Regions from separate parts of the Homo sapiens genome. Here regions 2, 3 and 4 are each linked to region 1. The links come from fine-mapping of genetic effects on gene expression. A gene starts in region 1. Each other region holds a variant in brackets. All regions are shown on one strand. Distances are from middle to middle.

What was found. PIP is the estimated chance that this variant, and not a neighbour inherited with it, causes the effect.
Region 2: its variant is fine-mapped to the expression of FANCC in whole blood (TOPMed, PIP above 0.99).
Region 3: its variant is fine-mapped to the expression of FANCC in prefrontal cortex (ROSMAP, PIP 0.95).
Region 4: its variant is fine-mapped to the expression of FANCC in whole blood (INTERVAL, PIP 0.98).

Annotation. Positions count from the first base shown.
Region 1 is chr9:95,314,695-95,319,899 of GRCh38, reverse strand. It overlaps FANCC (FA complementation group C), which reads left to right and starts at 2,191. Exons shown (of 15, transcript NM_000136.3): 1 at 2,191-2,374. RefSeq lists a silencer at 2,520-2,839.
Region 2 is chr9:94,959,658-94,964,862 of GRCh38, reverse strand. The region is part of intron 9 of AOPEP (aminopeptidase O (putative)); the gene reads right to left. Among named protein-coding and RNA genes, the nearest start is that of AOPEP-AS1, 17 kb to the right of the region's middle. The variant AACT/T (reference allele first, on the strand shown) is at 3,030.
Region 3 is chr9:94,652,313-94,657,517 of GRCh38, reverse strand. No RefSeq gene overlaps it. Among named protein-coding and RNA genes, the nearest start is that of FBP1, 15 kb to the right of the region's middle. The variant ACTG/G (reference allele first, on the strand shown) is at 3,161.
Region 4 is chr9:95,164,409-95,169,408 of GRCh38, reverse strand. The region is part of intron 6 of FANCC (FA complementation group C); the gene reads left to right. Among named protein-coding and RNA genes, the nearest start is that of MIR3074, 81 kb to the right of the region's middle. The variant A/G (reference allele first, on the strand shown) is at 3,037.

The sequences.
Region 1 (5,205 bases):
TCAATCATTAACAAACACTAAAAATGATTTTTCAGCGAATATGTAAAAGGATGTGGGTACCAAAATAGATAATTTCTCTCAAGAAATACATACTTTAATTGCTTTCTTTGCTGATAAATGCAGAACTTAAACGTCAACTCACTCTCGATTTGTTACCACAGAGGTGACTTTCTCATGGTCAAGGTGCCACGATGAGTGCCCCTCAGGCATGTATTTCCCTACCCAGGACTTGCTTTTGATTTATCCATGTCACACTATGCACACATCAAAAACACATCGACCTCTCTGCTGTAAAACAGAACGAAATCATGTCCTTTGCAGCAACATGGATGGAGCTGGAGGACATTATCCTAAGTGAACAAACTCAGAAACAGAAAATCAAATATTGCATGTTCTCATAAGCGGGAGCTAAACAATAGGTATACATGTACATAAGAATGGGAATAACAAGACACTGGGGACTCCAAAAAGGGAGAGGGTGGGAAGGGGGTGAGGGCTGAAAAATTAGCTATTGGGTACAATGTTCAATGTTTGGGGGACAGGTACACCAGAAGCCCAATCCCCACCATTACACAATATACCTATGTAACAAGCAAGCACATGTACCCCCGAATCTAAAATTAAAAAACAATCAAAAAGCACCGACTTCCTTAACTGGCATGGAATAGTTTCGAGAATGGATGTAAACACCGAATTCCTTAATGTAGTTGCAGATTCTGCCAGTTTTGTCTCAACCTCTGGATCGGTTCCTTTTTTTAACTACCTTTAATTCTTAAACAGATTGTTGCTATTGCTATGCTATATACTTATTGTATCACTTATAAATGTATAACCTCTGCAAATTAGTCTCTGAATTGAAAGTATTCATTGGTAAAACGGGTATTTCTTCACCATAGGAATAGTTGGACATGTTTAAATACTTGAGAGCTATTTTTATTACAAGCACACACAGCTTTGTGGTGTTTTTTGTTGAGACAGAGTCTCGCTCTGTTGCCCAGGCTGGAGTGCAGTAGTGCGATCTTGGCTTACTGCAACCTTCGCCTCCTGGGTTCAAGCAATTCTCCTGCCTCAGCCTCCTAAGTAGCCGGGAGTACACACTAATTTTTGTATTTTTAGTAGAGACGGGTTTTTGCCATGTTGGCCAGGCTGGTCTCAAACTCTTGACCTCAGGTGATCCACCCGCCTCAGCTTCCCAAAGTGCTGGGATTAGAGGTGTGAGCCACCGCGCCCGGCCTGTAGTGTGTTTTTGAACGTATATGTGAAGTTGTAGCTTTTTTTTTTTTTTTTTTGAGACGGAGTCTCCCTCTGTCGCCAGGCTGGAGTGCAGTGGCGCGATCTCGGCTCACTGCAACCTCTGACTCCCTGGTTCAAGCTATTCTGCCTCAGCCTCCAGAGTAGCTGAGATTACAGGCGCCCGCCACCGCGCCCGGTTAAACGTTTTGTATTTTTAGTAGAGACGGCGTTTCACCATGTTGGCCAGAATGGTCTCGATCTTCTGACCTCGTGATCCGCCCGCCTTGGCCTTCCAAAGTGCTGGGATTACAGGCCTGAGACACAGCGCCCGACCTAAGCTGTAGTTTTATGATTATGATTTATGGTTGTGAGGCATTGATTTAAGACATTTTAAAGCTTAAGTCGTCAGATCCTAGAAGAAAAAAAAATTCACCAAGACAAGCTAATGCCATTGTCATAAATGGGAGTTTGGAGAAAATTTTATTAATATTTGTTTGGGTGGTTTATGTACAGCGTTGAACTGATTTGAACCCCGACCAAACACTGTATGGAACTAATGTACGGTAGGGGAAATCATTAACTGAAGATGCCTTTTTTGTTGCTATTGTTTAGAACGCAGTTAGAAAATCTTATTTTAGAGGTTTTACCCCGTTGACAAAGCCTCAACTTTTCTTCAAAAGAACTAATTTCCATTTTACCTCCCCTACATTTTGAACAGAATATGGAAGAAGCCAGCGCCCCTTCTCCGCGGGCGCTGCTGCAACCCTGCTCCCGCCGGGGCTTCCGCGCGAAACCGGGAACACTGGAGCAGTACCGACTCCGCTCGCCTAGAACCCGCCCCAGCCGGGCCCACTTCCGCCAGAGCCCTGGCCGCGCCCGCCCCGCCCCACGGACCCGAGATTCGTCGGAATTTTCCCGCGACGCCGCGGGAGCGCGCGGGGCCGCTAGCCAGGCCCCAGAATGCACTGCTGACACGTGTGCGCGCGCGCGGCTCCACTGCCGGGCGACCGCGGGAAAATTCCAAAAAAACTCAAAAAGCCAATACGAGGCAAAGCCAAATTTTCAAGCCACAGATCCCGGGCGGTGGCTTCCTTTCCGCCACTGCCCAAACTGCTGAAGCAGCTCCCGCGAGGACCACCCGGTAAGCGGCAGGCCGCAGAACGCAGCGAGGGCGGAGGCTTCCCTCGGGGGTCTGGCCGACACGTCAGCGGCGAGAGCGGGAGGAGGAGGCGAGGGGCAAGAGGGAAGGCTCGCGAGAGCGGGTGGGCCAGGCGCGCCTTGCGGTGGGCGAGAGGGGTTCCCGCCGGCGCAGGGCTGTGGCTAAGGCTGAGGCGGGAGGCGGGAGGCGGGAGGCGGAAGGTGGCGGGCGGTGCCAGCCCGCGGGGCGGGGCCAGGGCGGGGAAAGCGGGGGCGGGAGCCGGCGCTGGGGTCGCGCGGAAGGGAGCCCCCGGAGAGGCGGGAGCCGGGTGTTGGCGTTTTGGTTCTTTTTGTTCATTGAGCGCAGGCAGCTATGTCTTCTTCAAAGGAGAGGAGCAAAGGTGAATTTCTCTGCCTCGGACTCGTGGGAGCCGTGAAAAGCTCGCCCCTTTGAGCCGGTCGCCCTCTACAGCTGGCCTCGTCCTCCCCGTCCCTCACACCCCTGCCCCCAAACCCCATTCGCCGGGGCGCCAGGAGGGGCGAGGTCCAATTAGAGGAGCCCGGGGCGCGGCTGTTACCCCTCCCGCCCTCCGCCTTTTATTCCCGGAGGGAGGCGGGTTCGCAGAGGCCAGTGTCTTCCCTCCATTCTTTTTGTGGACGCCAGGCCATATCTTCAAAGCCCGTGAGAGATTTTTCAGGTGCTGTTTGTTGGTTTGCTCTTTTTAATTTTTTAGGTGGGTGCGTTTACAACTACGAACCCTCTATGATCTTATGTGTCCAGCGCACCGAATGGGGGAAAAGACTTGGAGTTTTATAACATGGGAAATTGGGTACCAGAATCTTAAGGGAAGAGACCAAGGAGTTTTCTAGCAAAGTCCTGTATGTGCCTGGACTTTTGTTCTAATCTGAAACTTGGAAAACTCCCGGGCATCTGATTTTATTCTAACTTGTGCCCCATTTAATGCATCTAAACTGTGATGTGATTTGACTTAGCATTTATCAAATGAGCAGAGCACTTTTGGGCCACCCAACTTCAGCTCTTTGTGGCTGTCACTCACTGTCAGTGATATGCCCTCAGACAGATCGTTTTCTCCTTACTCCCCTGAAAGGTTGTTACAAACAGTAGAATTCATACCATGTGTTGAGATCATTCATTACCTAAGCTTAGATGGAAAACATGTTCATTGCGACTTTATACATTAAACTTGAATTGATGTTTCAATGTTATGTGCTGTACCAGAGTCACCTGGAAATAAGCACTCATATACATTATTCATATACAAGAAAGGCTGCATCGAAAAAGAATTTGTTTTCCTAGATATATCAGAGATCTTTTTCACCAACCCACTACTCCCAGTAATAGAGCCTGCTTCTTGAGAACTGGACTAATTATACTTTGTATATTATACATTCGAATTTATTTTTGCTTTATTCGGTCATATTTTCTCTTGATTTCTCCAAAAACGTTTACCAAGGCATCAGAAAAGAAAAGCAGGCTCTATATTGGTATTTTTTGTTTTGTCCTCTAATAAAAAGCATTAACTTGATTGATTGGCTGGTTGTGGAAGATGTGTTGCTGCATGTATGTGCAACTGTGCATGTACATTTTAAAACAAATGGTACTTTTAACCAGTTCCATATTTCAGCAGGTAGTTCCAATAACAATTATACAAATTTCGTGTTTATGAGAACCAGCTACAGGGAGGCCAGCCTGGCCAGTAGAAAGTTGGATTGATTATCTGGGCCATGGAGAGAGCCAGAGGAAACTCACATGAGTGGTAGTTCCAAGTTGGTAGTGTTAGGGCCTCAAATCGGGCTGGAAATGAGCACCAAATGATTTTTAAAAGTTTTATTTTAGGCTGGGATATGTGCATTCTCTGTCTTGTTTGTGGATCTTGAGTGATTGACTTAATGTGAAAAAATACATACAGGAGAAGCACCTTGGAAGTTTTGCAATGTTTTAATAAAAATGCAGAAGTGGAGAAGGAAAGGCAATTCAGATAACAGGCAGAGCATGGTGGCTTATGCCTGTAATCCCAGCACTTTGGGAAGCGGAGGCGGAAGGATCACTTGATCCCAGGAGTTCGAGTCCAGCGTGGGCAACAGAGAGAGCCCTGTCTCTACAAAAAGTTAAGAAATTAGCCGGCCATAGTGATGCGGGGCTGTGGTCCCAGTTACTCGGGAGGCTGAGGTGGAGGATCACCTGAGTTCAGGAGGTCGAGGCCACAGTGAACTGTGATTGCGCCACTGCACTCCACACTGGGCAGCAGACTGAGACCGTGTCTGGAAAAATAAAATTGGTAACAATTCAGATTGGCCACCAGAGTTGGACTGGGGGCTAGCAGGCAATGGTTTTACCTCCATTTTGAGATTGGCATCTTCTAACTCAAGTTTAATACGGGACTGAGGGTAAGAGACCTGCATGCCTTTTATGTCAGCATTACATTATCTTGATTATGGCAGCTTTATAGTAAGTTTTGAAATTAAGTAGTGTAAGTTATCCAATGTTTTTCTTCATTTTCAAAATTGTTTTGGCGGTTCAGGGTTCCTTACATTTCCATATAAATTTTAGTATCAGTTTGTTATTTTTTTTCAGAAAACCGTGCTGTGATAGACTTTGTAGGAATTGCATTTAATTTTGCATATCTATTTGGGGGAGAATTGCCATCTCATCATGAACATGGAATCTCTTTCCATTTGTTGAGCGCTTTAATTTCTCTTAGCAGTATTTAGTAATTTTCAGTGTACAAATTTTGCCCTTTTGTAAATTAATTTTGAAGTTTTATTTTTGATGGTATTGTGAATTGAATTATTTTTAAAATTTCATTAAAATTT
Region 2 (5,205 bases), 360 kb after region 1:
TCGAGACCAGCCTGGCCAACATAGTGAAACCCCGTCTCTACTAAAAATACAAAAAATTAGCTGGGTGGGTTGGTGGGCACCTGTAATACCAGCTACTTGGGAGGCTGAGGCAGGAGAATTGCATGAACCTGGGAGGCGGAGGTTGCAGTGAGCCGAGATCGCGCCATTGCACTCCAGCCTGGGCGACAGTGAGAGACTCCGTCTCAAAAAAAAAAAAAAAAAAAAAAGTCCAAGTACTTGTAATGATAACTTTTTACTAAGTTTACTTCATTATCTCCTTGTAGCCTATACTAATTTATCCTATATTTGCCTGGTAATTTATGCTCAATTATATGGGGGGAAATTACATTAACTCAATGGCAACGGGGGGAATTTAATTGCATGAGAAGCAGGAAATTCAGAGTTAACCTTAATTCTGCCCTTTTGCATTTTCCAGTTACAATTGGATCCTTCTGTACAGGATTGCAGAGCACAAGTATCCAGAATTGGGTGTTGAGTTCAGGGTAAGCGCAGGAGGCCCCGGAAACCCTGCTTCATGTTGAAGGAAGATGGTTGTCCTGCCTCCCAGTGGGCTGTGATCCTGGAGCACCTGCCTCTTCCTACCTCAGAGCTCAGGCCTGCAGGCAACAGAGCAGTGAGCTGGAGGCTGCCAGCGATGCTGGGGATGGCAGGCCCAGGGGATCGCAAAATCCTAACACCTTGGGCATCTCTAAGACATGGGGCTGCATTCCCACAGGCTATGGGAATGTCTTTCTATAGCGTTCGATATTCTTCTGTTCTGTGTTCCATCCCATTCAAGATAGCTGGTCTCATCCAGGCAGTCTCTGTACCATCTATCAATGGAATTAACCCACTGGCCCTTCTTACTCCTGTCATAGATTCCATCTTTAACCATGAAACACTAGTTTTCCTGTTTCTTTTCATAAATTGGCATATACCTCTAAAGTGGACTTATGACAGAAGCTTTTTCCACTTTCTACAGCACAAGAAAATAAAAAGAAAAATGTCTCTTATGATTATTCCTTCCTGCACCACCTCTTTTCAATTCTTTCGTCTGTCTTCTTTCTTTCCTACAGTGTATTGGCAGTTTTGTGAAAGCAAATTATAAATCTTATTTGGACAAGGAAGACTTTTTTCATAGCTGATTCTAGAAAAATTTGACAAAGTTAGCTAGCAACAAATAGTAGGGGCCCCAGCTTGTCACCTCTGCAGTGTGCCTGAAAACAAATTAAAACCAAAGCCCACCCCCACTCCCCAAAATCTATTGATAAAACAATAGATTTATTTAAATCTATGAAGGGGATGAAATTCTATCTGGACCCTTGGCGATGGTTACAAGCCCACACTCCAATCAGAAAATACATTCCTTTAGAATTTTTTTTTCATTTCCTACTGTCCTAATAATCTATATGCCAATCAGGTCCATCGCATACAGCTTGTTTTGATTAACACCTAACAACACTAAATTAAACACTACACATTTTTGAAAAACTAACACTGATTTTGGCACATGGCTAATTTGGTAACTATTTTTTAGTCCTGGTGAAAGTATTCAACAGAAAGCAGGTACATGTAGATTCTACTGGATAAACTGACACTGGCTTGACTATTACATGGGGCTAGCAATTTCTGTCGAGTATTTTATGAATAATTATCATGTTCATGGGGAAGGGGTGGGAGGTAGTAGAGGCAAAACAAAATATTGAAGGAAGGACAGGATTGGCAAGATAAAAACTGAGAAGAAATGAAATTGTCAGGAAGAAGTTATTGTTACACTCAAGAGAGGGCTTTTAGTGGGGGCTACAAAGATGATAATATTGGCTGGATGCGGTGGCTCACGCCTGTAATCCCAGCACTTTGGGAGGCTGAGGTGGGCGGATCATGAGGTCAGGAGGTCGAGACCATCCTGGTTAACACGGTGAAACCCCATTTCTACTAAAAAATACAAAAATTTAGCCAGGCGTGGTGGCGGGTGCCTGTAGTCCCAGCTACTCGGGAGGCTGAGGCAGGAGAATGGCGGGAGAATGGCGTGAACCCACAAGGCAGAGCTTGCAGTGAGCCGAGATCACGCCACTGCACTCCAGCCTGGGTGACAGAGTGAGACTTCGTCTCAAAAAAAAAAAAAAAAAAAAGATGATAATATTGAAATGCTGGACAGGGAGGGCATTTGGAAGGGAAAGGATTAAGATGTAAACTGGAAAAGGAAGAACTTTAGGGACTTCTGAGTAAAGAAACTGGATCATAGACCTTCATCATCAATAACTAACTAGCAATTTACACAAAAACACAAACCATTAAAGTAATTAAAAATGTAACCAGCAGCATTCAAACAAGGACAGCCTCATGGCATAAACTTCAAGAAGATGCAACTAAGGAAGAAATCTAAGATTCAAACACAGCTTCTAACTCTCCCTCTGCACCGACCCCCAGCCTCATGCTTAGCAGTAGCAGTACTGGTGAACTGCACAAACCCGGCAAATTCTCACAAATATCCACACATTTGGGAAAAAATAGGAATATCTTTGTCTGTCTTCTTTTTTGCCTGTGGAGGGGCTGGAAGTGTTTGCTGGCAAGAGATGAGTAAAACGTGGGAAATAAACAACTGAGGATGACTCTCTTCGGTGAACTGCTCATGTTCTAGGGCTGTCACCTAAATTGGAGGAACAATATTAATTGAGAGGGAATTAATTAATATTAACACAGTGGGAAAAAGCTGCACCCATATTAGGTCACAAGAATCTTGGCAGGGGACATTTAACAAGTTTTCAAGAGCAGCACAGCCACATTTTCCCAACAAAGGCTGTATACAACTCCAGTGGAGCTTCTCTCCTCCTCCCCTGTACACATAACATCCAAGTTTCAAACTGTAGCTCAGAGGGAGAGAAAAACAGGCATAGCACAAGTTGGAAAAGGAATCAAAGATAATGTTCCAATACATATGAGAATAAACGAAAGGTCAGGAGAGTGCTACCCAAGCTGAGAATGAGCAAAAAGAAACGTATGGCAACCATGCAAACTAACACAACAAC[AACT/T]CACATAGAAAGAAAGCAGCATAACACATAAAAGATAAGGAATCCCGCCTTGAAGAAAACATAATCCAAGGAATAGAAGAAAATTCTCCATGAATACTTTACACTATAAAATAAATTAACAGCTACAGAAAAAATAAAAACATAAATTTGGTAAAATGAAAGCTCAAAGATAAGTTGACAAAACAACAAAATGAAAAGAACATAGAGATTTCATGGCAAAGGTAATAAATTAAGGACCAGTACAAGAGCACTAATAGAAACGTCAAGGAAAAGAACAGACATTAAGGAAAATAACACTAACAATAAAGGGGTTGCTTCGGATTAATACAGGTCATGAAGAAGAAAAAGATAAACGCAATTGGAAAATAACAGGTATAGAGGACAAGGATGACATAACACAAGGAAAACTGGTAACCTTGAAATCCAGAACCCTGCAAGGGGGAAAAACGAATTCAAAAATACAATGAAGACATACTTATTGAAAGAGGAAAGAATAGAATCTAGGACTAAAAATAAAAATGCACACTATTTTTCCAGGGGGAAAAAAGATAGAAAACCATAGACACCAAGCCATTTCCTGATAAAATTACTAAACTTCAAAGATAAGGAAAGAATTCTTCTGTCATCTAAGAGGCAGAAAGGGGGAAAAGCAGGATGACTGCAGAAGTTTCCACAGCAGGATTTAATGCCAGAAAGCAGCTGAGCCATGTCTAAAAAGTTTTGAGGGCATGAAAATGTGACCCAAGAATATTATATCCAGTCAGTTTATAATTCAAATATAAAGAAAACAGGCAAGCATTCTTTTTTTTTTTTTTTTGAGACAGATTCTCGCTCTGTCGCCCAGGCCGGAGTGCAGTGGCGCGCAATCTCGGCTCACTGCAAGCTCCGCCTCCCGGGTTCACGCCATTCTCCTGCCTCAGCCTCCCGAGTAGCTGGGACTACAGGCGCCCCCCACCGCGCCCGGCTAATTTTTTGTATTTTTAGTAGAGACGGGGTTTCACCGTGTTAGCCAAGATGGTCTCGATCTCCTGACCTCGTGATCTGCCCACTTTGGCCTCCCCAAGTGCTGGGATTACAGGCGTGAGCCACCGCACCCGGCCCACAAGCATTCTTACGCAGTAAGAACTCAGAAATAGAGCCTGTGAGTCTGCAACGAACACAAATTTGATAATGAAATTCAGCCAGCAAAGAGCTGAATCAAAATAAAATATTCATGAAAAAAGGTAAAATAACTGGTGGTAAATACTGAAATCCTTTAACAAGCCAAGATTACACAACTGTGAAAATTATGGTTATAGTCAATTTTGTAAATGAAATAAATCTTAATATATAAAAATAATAATTAAGAAAAATTTAGAATTAAGGGGAAAGTAGTTAAAGTACATAACTATTTAATTCCTCATCTTTTTTTTTTTTTTCCCTGAGATGGAGTCTCGTTCTGTCCCAGGCTGGAGTGCAGTGGCGTGATCTCGCCTCACTGCAACCCCCGCCTCCTGGGTTCAAGCTATTCTCCTGCCTCAGCCTCCTGAGTAGTTGGGATTACAGGCACTCACCACCAATGCCTGGCTAATTTTTGTATTTTTAGTAGAGATGGGATTTCACCATGTTAGCCAGGCTGGTCTCGAACTCCTGACCTCATGATCCACCCGCCTCAGCCTCCCAAAGTGCTGGGATTACAGGCGTGAGCCACCGTGCCCGGCCAATTCCTCATCTTTTACAGTAGTGAATAAACTGATGTTTTCTACAAATGGAATATATAGGTAAAGGGAAAAAATAATTTCAACCTCTTAATTCTTTTATAATAATGTTTCTTAACCATAAAAAATTCTTTTAGAAAATAATCTTTCTTACATTTATCTTAAGTTTGGGAAGTTATCTCCACTTTAGTTGCTTTTTCATTCATTAAATTCAAGTAAAAGAAAATTTAAAACACTTCATTAAAATGCACATATAATATAATCCTATTTTTATAAAATTATTTCTGTCCAGTGACATCAATGTCTGTATACACACATATGCCATATATACATACATACACAGATACATGTATATATATCATGTATAACATATAAACATTGAGGGATAAATAGTATGATTTCTGGAGTGTCACTCACACAATATTAATTATAGGTATTTCTGGGTGGTGGGATTTTGAGTAATGTTTCACATTCTT
Region 3 (5,205 bases), 660 kb after region 1:
AAAGTAGCCTTGGGTGGCTTGGTTGGCCACACACGCCACTGAAAGCACCTCTCCCAGGAATCCAGTCGCCTCCAGTGCCTGCTGAAGCAAGAAAACCCTCCAAAGGATGACTCCAGCTGTGTCTGCATCATAATTAAGGCTGCAAAAACCCAAAATGAATGAAGTCTCCCCAGCTAATGTGCCACTTCTAATTTAATCTAATTGGCCTCTGAAAGAGAGCCTTGGCCTGCCTCAGAGGCAAAATCTTCCAAATGAAGTGAATTTAAACTAATTTAAGCTAACTAATTACAAACTGGGGGGTATTGTCACAAGACAATTGTTATTGTTCTTTGATTGCTTGCTCAACTGGATTATTTGCTCATTACCTTCAGAGCTGTTGGGACTTTCATGGGGTGCCCCTTGCCGCACATCAATAAGGCATTCTACAAGGCAGCCTGGAGTGGAGGGTCCCCACACCAGATTGGCATGGGAGCGCTGAGGATTAGCTTGGCTTTCTGCGTGTTTGGAGAATCTTAAAGCAAATGCACAGCATGTGCTGCTCATTCAAATAACCTGCAGCTAACTACACCTCTTTTTGGAGACGTAAGTTTTTCTTTAGCTTCGGGATGTAGGTTATGAGTTTTGAGGTCATCTGTTGAACCAACCTCTTTATTGTTCAGTCGTTCTGACCTTGAGATGCAGCTCGTTATACCTGGGTAGAGATCTGAAGCAAAAGTGGGGAGAAAAAAAAGACCTGTATCCAAGCCTGTTTCTCAGCAGCTGTGTGAGGTAGCTGTGCTGCCACACCTCTCTGAGCCACAGGCAGAGATCTGGTGGAAAACGCATGAAATTTGCAGACCCATCTATCTGCTGCTTCTGGTTTGAGCTTCAGTTCCCTCCTCCCAGGCATGTTAAATTTAGCCTACAGCTGCCTCCTTACTTATTTTAAGTGTAACAAATGTTATGTTACATTTGGGACCTGTGTGGCTAAAGGCTTCTCTGCACAAAGGGAACTGTCACTTAACTGGATGTGAAAGGGGCTGTAACCTACTCTTGTGACAAGCAACCATACTTCAACCACTCACAGGTGGCCAAGTCTTCCAACTGTGTTCGAGTAAGGCCAACGCTGAGCTGTAGCCAATCAGGCTGTTTCTCTGCCTCACTTCTGTTTTCTGTGCTTCACTTTCCGTTCTCTGCCCGTAAAGACTCTCACCACACGGCAGCACCAGAGACGCTCTGAACCTCTTCTGGTCAGGGGGCTGCCTGATTCCCATATCATTCTTTGCTCAATTAAACTCTGTTAAATGTAGTTTGCCTCAGTTTTCCTTTTAACAGGCAGAAACTACCACCTCACAGAATTGCTATGAAGACTGAACATGGTCACTCTGTGAAAACATTTCATAAACTGTGTGTCGCTTGCGAATGCTGTTATTTTTCTCATCTGTAAAATAAAGGAATTCAACCAGGGGATTTGAATAGTTTCTGTATTCATTTCCTGTGGCTGCCATAACCAAGCACCACAAATCGGGTGGTTCATAGCCACAGAACTGTGTCCTCCTGCGGTTCTGGAAGCCGAGTCTGAAATGAAGGTGGCGGCAGGGCTGTCCTTCCTCTGACGGCTCAGGACGAGTCCTCTCCTGCCTCCTCCAGCTCCAGGCGCTCCTCAGCATGTGGCTGCTTCGCTGGGTCTCTGTCCCACCTCCACATCACCTTCTGCTCTGTGTGTTTCAAATCTCTCTCTGCCTTTCTCTTGTGAGGACACTTGTAATTGGGTTTAGGGCTCACCTGGGTAATTCAGGATGATCACATGGCAACAGCCTTCACTTGATTACATCTTCAAAGACCCCATTTCCCAAATAAGGCCACCATCCCAGATTCTGGGTGGACACTGTGGGCAGTGGCACCATATTCAGCCCACTGCAGCCCTCCTTAGCTCTGTGGTCCTATCTTCTTCTGGATGTTACCATTTGGTCTAAATTTCAACCAGTCTGAGTTGCATATTGAGTGGTACAAAAGCAATGGCCACATTTGATGTTTCTTGTCTGAGAATGTATGTTTCTTCAATATTTCCATGAAAAATATGCATCGAATATTTTACTACGGTAGGAGTAGGGGCCAAGTATAGGGCAAAAACTTATTGATTACAAGTTTATGCAAATTAGACAGCAAAATGAAAATTTCAAGCAGCCTTGGCACTACAACAAAAAAGTCTGTCTAGCAAGAGATTGGATTTAATTATTAAGAAAGTTGGGGGCCGGGCCTGGTGGCTCATGACAGTAATCCCAGCACTTTGGGAGGCTGAGGTGGGTGGATCACCCGAGGTGGGGAATTTGAGACAAGCCTGACCAACATGGAGAAACCCTGTCTCTCCCAAAAATACAAAAATTAGCTGGATACGGTGGCACATGCCTGTAATCCCAGCTACTCGGGAGGCTGAGGCAGGAGAATCGCTTGAACCCAGGAGGTGGAGGTTGCGGTGAACCGAGATTGCACTATTGCACGCCAGCCTGGGCAACAAGAGCGAAACTCTGTCTCAAAAAAAAAAAGAAAAAAGAAAAAGAAAGAAAGTTGGGAGAGTGACTGTCCCACTGTGCTGTTTGATAGAATCAGTGTCTCTGGGTTAGTGGCTTTTGGCAGATGTCTGCTAGTCTAAAAAGCCACAGTTGAGGGTAGAAAGAAGAAGATTCTAGAAAGAATGCTCATAATGGACAATAATAGCTCTTTCTACTTCCGGGGAATCTTTCCATTTGGGAACACTGAAGTGCTTTGCAGACAGTCGTTACAATTACACAAGCGTTGGGATGTCCATGTTCTCGCTTCCTCATGTTAGACATTGAGCCACTGAGGAAGTCTAAGGACATGGGGTGTGTCATTGGAGAAGTGCCCCTAGCTGACTGTTGAGGGTAAGCAGAGCCACAGCCTCCAGATTTTATTCAAGGTGAAATGGACATTGGGTGAGCTCTCTTGTTCTCAGATGATCTGCTTTATAGTACAGGACTAGGGCCATAGCAGTTGCCATCAAAGTGGCTGGATTTCAATTACCTCCAGCCTGTGGACTGACAAGGTCTGGGTCGACTGTCCCTCCCTCCCTTAGGCTGGACGTGCTGAGGCACATGTGATGGGGAGTTGCTGGGCTGGTGACCACCTGACATGTCCTCTCTGTACTTCCTTCCCCAGCATC[ACTG/G]CCCACCAGTTCCTGCTCTAGCCAATGACTCAGTCTCAGCGCACCCACTCGTCAGTACTCGCATGGAGAAGAACTCTGACTTCTCTGATTTCTGTTCCAAGAAGGCGGTACATGGACAGCAGTCCTCTTGGAGGACTATGGAGATGGCTCTTGATGGGCCTTGGAGAGGGGCTCCAGCTCTGAGGACTGTGCTCTGGGACTTGTGCTGGTTGTTTGCACCTCCAGGTCCATTTTCCATCCTTCTCCACCTGCTCGAGGCCCTGGGAGGCTGACCCGCAGGACGGCATCAAGGGTTCCCCTGCCCCAGGGCTGCCAGCTGGGTTCAGTCAGTGCACAGCCTCAGAGGGAAAGCGAGTCTGGACACTTTATTCTGGTGCCCTCAGGGGTACCTTGGACTGGCCACAGCCCTCGACCTGCCATCTTGGCTCCTGACAGGCAGCTCCTCCACTCTGCCCTCTCTGTGTGGGGTTCTGGCAAACTTCAAGCGTAGGGGTAGCAGTGAAGCCCCCAGCAGTCACTGTGAGCCCTGAGGCATCGCAGCCCCTTATGCCTTTCTTCCCCCCACCCCCGTCCACATGGTTGTGGAGGATTCCTTTGTGAAATTCTCCTGAAATCATCCTGAGTGTGCCATCTGTTTCCCACAGGGCCCCTGACTGGTTCCTTTGTTTATAAAAATGGAACAGTAATGCCCATCTCATGGTGTCTTCAGGATTAAATGGGTGAACACATGAGAAGCATTCAGCATAATGACCCGTAGTTTTACATGCTCAGTAAGTGCTAGCTCGAGACACATTTTCCAGTGGAGCTGGTGAGTGCGTCAACTCAGTTCAATTCAATCCTGCCAATATTTATGAAGCCCCCACTAGGTGCAAGGCCAGAGCCAGCCATTTCCCAAGTGACAAAGGTGCGTGACTGAATAGGCACAATCCACTCCCTCCGAACACTTGGAGCCCTCACAAGCGGCGGCCTCATTGCCCTCTCTCTCTCTCTCCACTTCAGTCACCATTTGACAAATATTTCCTGAGGGCCTACATTCTTCGGGGTGCCATGTTAAGAACACCTTGGGATAAAAGAGTGAGCAGAATAGATACCTCCGCTCTCAGAGAGTGAACAGCCTGCTGGAAGGAGACAGACATCAGTCCATCACTCGGATCCCTACGTTAGCGAGTGTGTTTCACAAACTGGCATCAGGGCTCTAAAGGAAGAAAACTGGCTTCTGTAAGGAATGAGACCTGGCCTGCATGGGGGTCAGGGGATGTTTTGCTGAAAACACAAACGTAGACACAACCCAAGCCAAGCAAAAGGCGGTGGCCAGGGCAGTGCACTCAGAACACCATGCAAAGGCCCTGCACAGGGAGGGCGCCATGTGGCTGGAGCAGAAACAGGGAAGCAGGGGCAGCTGGTGGGACATGGAAGATGACACTGGAGAGGCTGGGGGGCCAGATGGTGCAGGGTCTGTAGGCCAGGGTTAATATTTTAGCCCTTATTCAAAACACACACAACCAAAGTCATGTGTGTGTGTGTGTTCTCAGCTATTTCAAAATGTTGCTTTGGCTGCAGCAAAGAGAATGGGCTGGAGAGTGCAGGATAGATATGAAAGAGCCACGAGGAGGCCTCTGCTATAGTCTGGGAGGAGGATGACTGACAGCTTGGGCCGGAATGGTGCCAGAGGAGAAGGGAGAACTGGACCTGTTCAAAGACATCAGGAAAACACAAATTATGGGGGGTGGGGTGGGCTGAATATGGAGCGGGGGGCGGGGAATGAAGGAGAAACTTGGGGGTGGGCTGGATATGGAGGGTGAGGGGGGCTGTCAAAGAAAAATCCTAGACTTCTGGCTGATTGGTAACGTCATCACCCAAGAAATAAAATATTGGACAAAGATCTGGCTTGGTGTGGAAGGTCAGGAAAGACCATGAATTCAGTCTTGTGTGTGACATGACTTTTGAGACATCGAGATACAGAAATCAAGAAGCAGCTGGATATGGGGATTTGGAGCTCCAAGGGGAGAGCTGAGCTGGTGATGTGAGTTTCACAGCCATTA
Region 4 (5,000 bases), 150 kb after region 1:
ACACCCAGTGGATGTCTGAAACTGTGGATAGTACCAAACCTGATTGCCACCAATCATAACACATTTCTGTATTCCACTCACAACTTTAATGTCTTTTCCATCGTAACTAAGCACTTATCATATATGATGGCTGTAATTTTTGCCATGTGAGATGCAACGACAAAACTAACAGAAATTTTTTTCCTTCTTTACAATTTCACAGATAGATGATTTGTTTTTACTATAGATCTCAGCAACCTCAGCATATGATTTTTTTCTTTCCTTATTAAGTTGAAAACTTTCACCTTTTCACTTAAAGAAAGCACTTTACAACTTCTCTGTGGCATATCCAAATTGCCAGCCCCAGTGCTCTTGGACTTTGAGGTCATTATTAAGTATTAATAAAATAAGAGTTACTTGAACACAAGCACAGTGATACTGTGACAGTTGATCTGACAACCAGTATGGCTACTAAGTGACTAACGAGCAGGTAGTGTATATATTATGGATACCCTGGGTAAAGGGATGATTCATGTTCCAGATGGGACAGAGTGGGACAGCATGAGATTTCATCATGCTACTCAGAACAGTACACAATTTAGGCCAGGTGCGGTGGCACATGCCTTTAATCCCAGCACTTTGGGAGGCTGAAGTAGGTAGATCACCCGATTTCAGGAGTTCAAGACGAGCCTGGCCAACATGTCAAAACCGCATCTCTACTAAAAGTACAAATTAGCTGGGCGTGGTGGCTTATGCCTGTAGTCCCAGCTACTCGGGAGGCTGAGGCAGGAGAATCACATGAACCTGGGAGGTGGAGGTTGCAGTGAGCTGATATTGCATCACTGCACTCCAGCCTGGGCAACAGAGCAAGGTGCCATCTCGAACAAAACAGTGCACAATTTAAAACCTTTGAATTATTTCTGGAATTTTTTCATTTAATATTTTTGGACCACGGGTGACCATGGCTAGCTCAAACTACAAAAAGTAAAACTGCAGATAAAGGAAGACTACTTTTGATGCCTTGGGGCCATGGAGAACAAAAGAAAGCTTAGTGGTTTGTGGTAGCACCAGAGAATTGACAGTGCTGCCGATGGAGGCTGGCATAGCTCAACAGAATTGGGAGGAAGCACTTAGCTCATGACCTGTTCTTTGGGAGGGGAAGAGAAGCCTCTGGCTTCTCAGGGGCCTACTAGAGGGACTGGTATCTGTCTTGCCTGACTCACAGCACTGACAGAGAAATGGCGTAGTTTGGAACAAGAGAGCTCAGCAGCTTGTTGCAGCACTGGAGAATCTGCAATACCACAAACGGACACTAGAGGGGAGGGGAAGATTAGGAGCTCTTGAAAAACCAGTAAAGCCCTCTAATTTGGAAATCACACGCATAAGCCCAGAGAAGATATATCCCTGGAAAAGGTTTGAGGGACCTCCAGAATGTCTAGCCGGGTCCACTGGTGAAAGCCTTCCTTTGTACCATGTTAGTCGATAAAGACTGAGAGAAGTAGATGTTTCTTTAAATGTACAAAATACAACAAAAATAACAAGACACAAAGTAAACCAGGGAAACGTGGCATAATCAAGGGATGAAAATAAATCTACAGAAACAGACCCTAAAGAAGCAGAGATCTATGCATTACCTGACTAAGTATTTGAAATAATTGCCTTAAGGGATCTCAAGGCACTACAAGAGAACACAGATAAACAACTAAATGAAATCAGGAAAACAATATGTGAGCAAAATGAGAATATCAACAAAGAGATGGAAACTAGAAAAGAACCAAACAGATATTCTGGAGCTAAAGAACCACAATAAGTGAATTGAAAAACTTACTAGAGGGGTTCAGCAGTAGACTTGATCAAACAGAAGAAAGGGTCAGAAAACTTAAACACAAATCATTTGAAATTATTAAGTCAGAGAAACAAAAAGAAAAAAGAATGAAGGAAAGTCAAGAAAGCCTAAGACACTTGTGGAACAACATCAAATGGAACAATACACACATTTTGTGAGTCCTAGAATAAGAGAGAAAGGGGCAGAGAACTTATTTGAAGAAATAATGGTGAAAACTTCCCAAATATTAGGAAGGAATTGGATATCCTAATTTCAGAAGCTCAGCAGACTCCAAAGAATGAACCCAAAGAGGCCTACAACAACATACACAAAAATCGGATTGTCAGAAGTTAAAGACATAATCTTGAAAGCAGCAAGAAAAAAGTGACTTGTCATGTACAAGGAAGGTTCCAGAAGATTATCAGTGGATTTCTCAGCAGAAATATTACAGGCCAGAAAGGAGTGGGATGATACATTCAAAGAGCCAGGGAGGAAACAAAACAAAACAAAAAACCCTTCCAATCAAGAATACTGCATCTGGGCTAAATCATCCTTCAAAAAATGAAGAAAAAAAGACATTCCCAGATAAACAAAAGCTGAAGGAGTTCATCACCATTAGACCTGCCTTACAAGAATTGCTAAAGGGAGTCCTTCAAGTTGAAATGAAAGAATATTAGCAACATGAAAGCATGCAAAAATATAAAGCCTTCTGGTAAATGTAAATATACAGACAAACACAAAATCTTATAATACCGTGTTGTATAGTACAGTTGTCCCTCAGTATCCAGAGAGGATTGGTTCCAGGACTTCCCACACATACCAAAATCTATAGATGCTCCAGTCCCATAGTAAACTGTATGGAACTTACAGATACAAACGTTCAATCTTTGGGTTCTACATCCTGCAAATACTATATTTTTGATCCATGATTTAGTTGAATCCATGGATACAGAACCCATAGATATAGAGGGCTGAGTGTACATAAATCACTTTTTAATTCTGGTATAGAACTTAAAAGATAAAAGTGTAAAAATAACTATTAAACTGTGTTGATAGATACAAAATAGAAAAGGATGTAATTTGTGATATTGATAACATAAACTGGGGAGGGAAATGTAAATGAGTAGAGTTTTAGTATGTGATTGAAGTTATCTCGTTAGGTTGTTATAACTCTAAGATGTTTAATGTAATGCCCATGGTAACAACAAGAAAATACCTGTAGGAGATGTACA[A/G]TGGAAAATGAGAAGGAAAGCATGTCACTATGAAAAAAATCAATGAAACCCAAAGGAAGGGAATAAGAGAAAATCGTGAACAGAATAACTACTAGGTATATGGAAAACAACAAAATGGCAATAGTAAGTCCTTCTCTATCAGTAATTACTTTAGGTGAACATGAATTAAACACCCCATTCAAAAGATGTGGAATAGCAAAATAGATCAGAAAACAAGATCCAACTATATTCTAGCTACAAGAGACTCACTTGAGATACATAGGCTGAAAATGAAAAGATGGAAAAATGGCAACCAAAATAGAGCAGGCATAGCCATACTTATATCAAACTATCAAAAGAGACAAAGAAAAAGATTATATAATAATAAGAGTGTCAATTCAGGGAGATACAACAATTACAATAATATATGCACTTAACACAGCATCCAAATATATGAAGCAGATACCAATAGAATTGAAGGGAGAAAGAGACAGTAACACAATAATAATAGATTTCACCACCCCACTTTTAATAACATATTGATTAACCAGACTGAAGACCAATAAAAAAATAGAACTTGAATAATGCTGTGGACCAATTGGACCTAATAGGCATATAGAGAACATTCTACCCAATAACAGCAGAATATACACTCTTCTCAAGCACATATAGAACATTCTGTAGGAAAGACCACATGTTAGGCCACAGAACAAGTCTTAACAAATTTAAGAAGACTGAAATCATAGTAACTATTTTTTCTGACCACAAGGGAATAGAAATCAGTAACAAAAAGAAAATTGGAAAATTCACAAATATGTGGAAATTAACCCACTCTTAAACAACCAGTGAGTCAAAGAACAAATTACAAGAAACACAGACAATAACTTGAGACAAATGAAAATGAAAACCCAACATATCACAACCTATGGGATGCAGCAAAAGCAGTTCTAAGCAGGAAGTTTATAGTGGTAAATGCCTACATTAAAAAAGAAGAAAGTGTACATGCTTTTGAAGGAAGAAAAAAAAAGAAAATAAGAAGGATCTCAAATCAGAAACCTAACTTTACACCTCAAGCAACTAGAAAAAGAACAAACTAAACCTAAAGTTAAAAGGGAGAGACTAATAAAGATTAGAACAGAAATAAATAAAATAGAGAATAGAAGAAAAAACTAAGAGTTGGGTTTTTGTAAAGATCAGCAAAATTGACAATTCCTTAGACTAAGAAAAAAAAAGAGAAGACTTAATAGCAAAAATCAGGAATAAAGAATAGAAATTAAAACTGATGCCACAAAAATTAAAAAGATTGAGACTACTATGAACAATTATATACCAACAAATTGAATAACCTAGAATAAATAAATGTCTAAAAATATACAGCCTACACGACTGAATAATGAAGAAATAAAAACATCTGAACAGACCTACAACTAGTAAAGAGATTGAATTGGTTATTCAGAACCTTCCAACAAAGAAAAAAACCAGGACCAGATGGCTTCACTGGAGAATTCTATCAGACATTTAAAGAAGAATTAACACCAGTCTTTCTTAAAGTCTTCCAAAATATTGAAGAAGAGGGGACATTTCCAAACTCATTTTGTGAGCAAGCATTACCCTGACACGAAAATCAGGCAATGAAACTACATGAAAACAGATTAATATCCTTCGTGAATCATGATGGAAGGATTCTCAGCAAAAAGGGAATTCAACAATACGTTAAAAAGATATGTATAAACACCATGACTGAATGAAAATTATTCCTTGAATACAAGGATGGCTCAACATACAAAAATCACTATATTGCACCACATTAATAAAATGATGAACAAAAACCACATGGATCATCTTAATGCAGAAATGGCATATGACAAAACTCAATACTCACTTATGGTAAAACCTTAAACAAATTAGGAATAGAAGGAAATGACCTCAATGTAGTAAAGTAGTAAAGGCCATATTTGAAAAATCCATAGCTAACATCATACTCA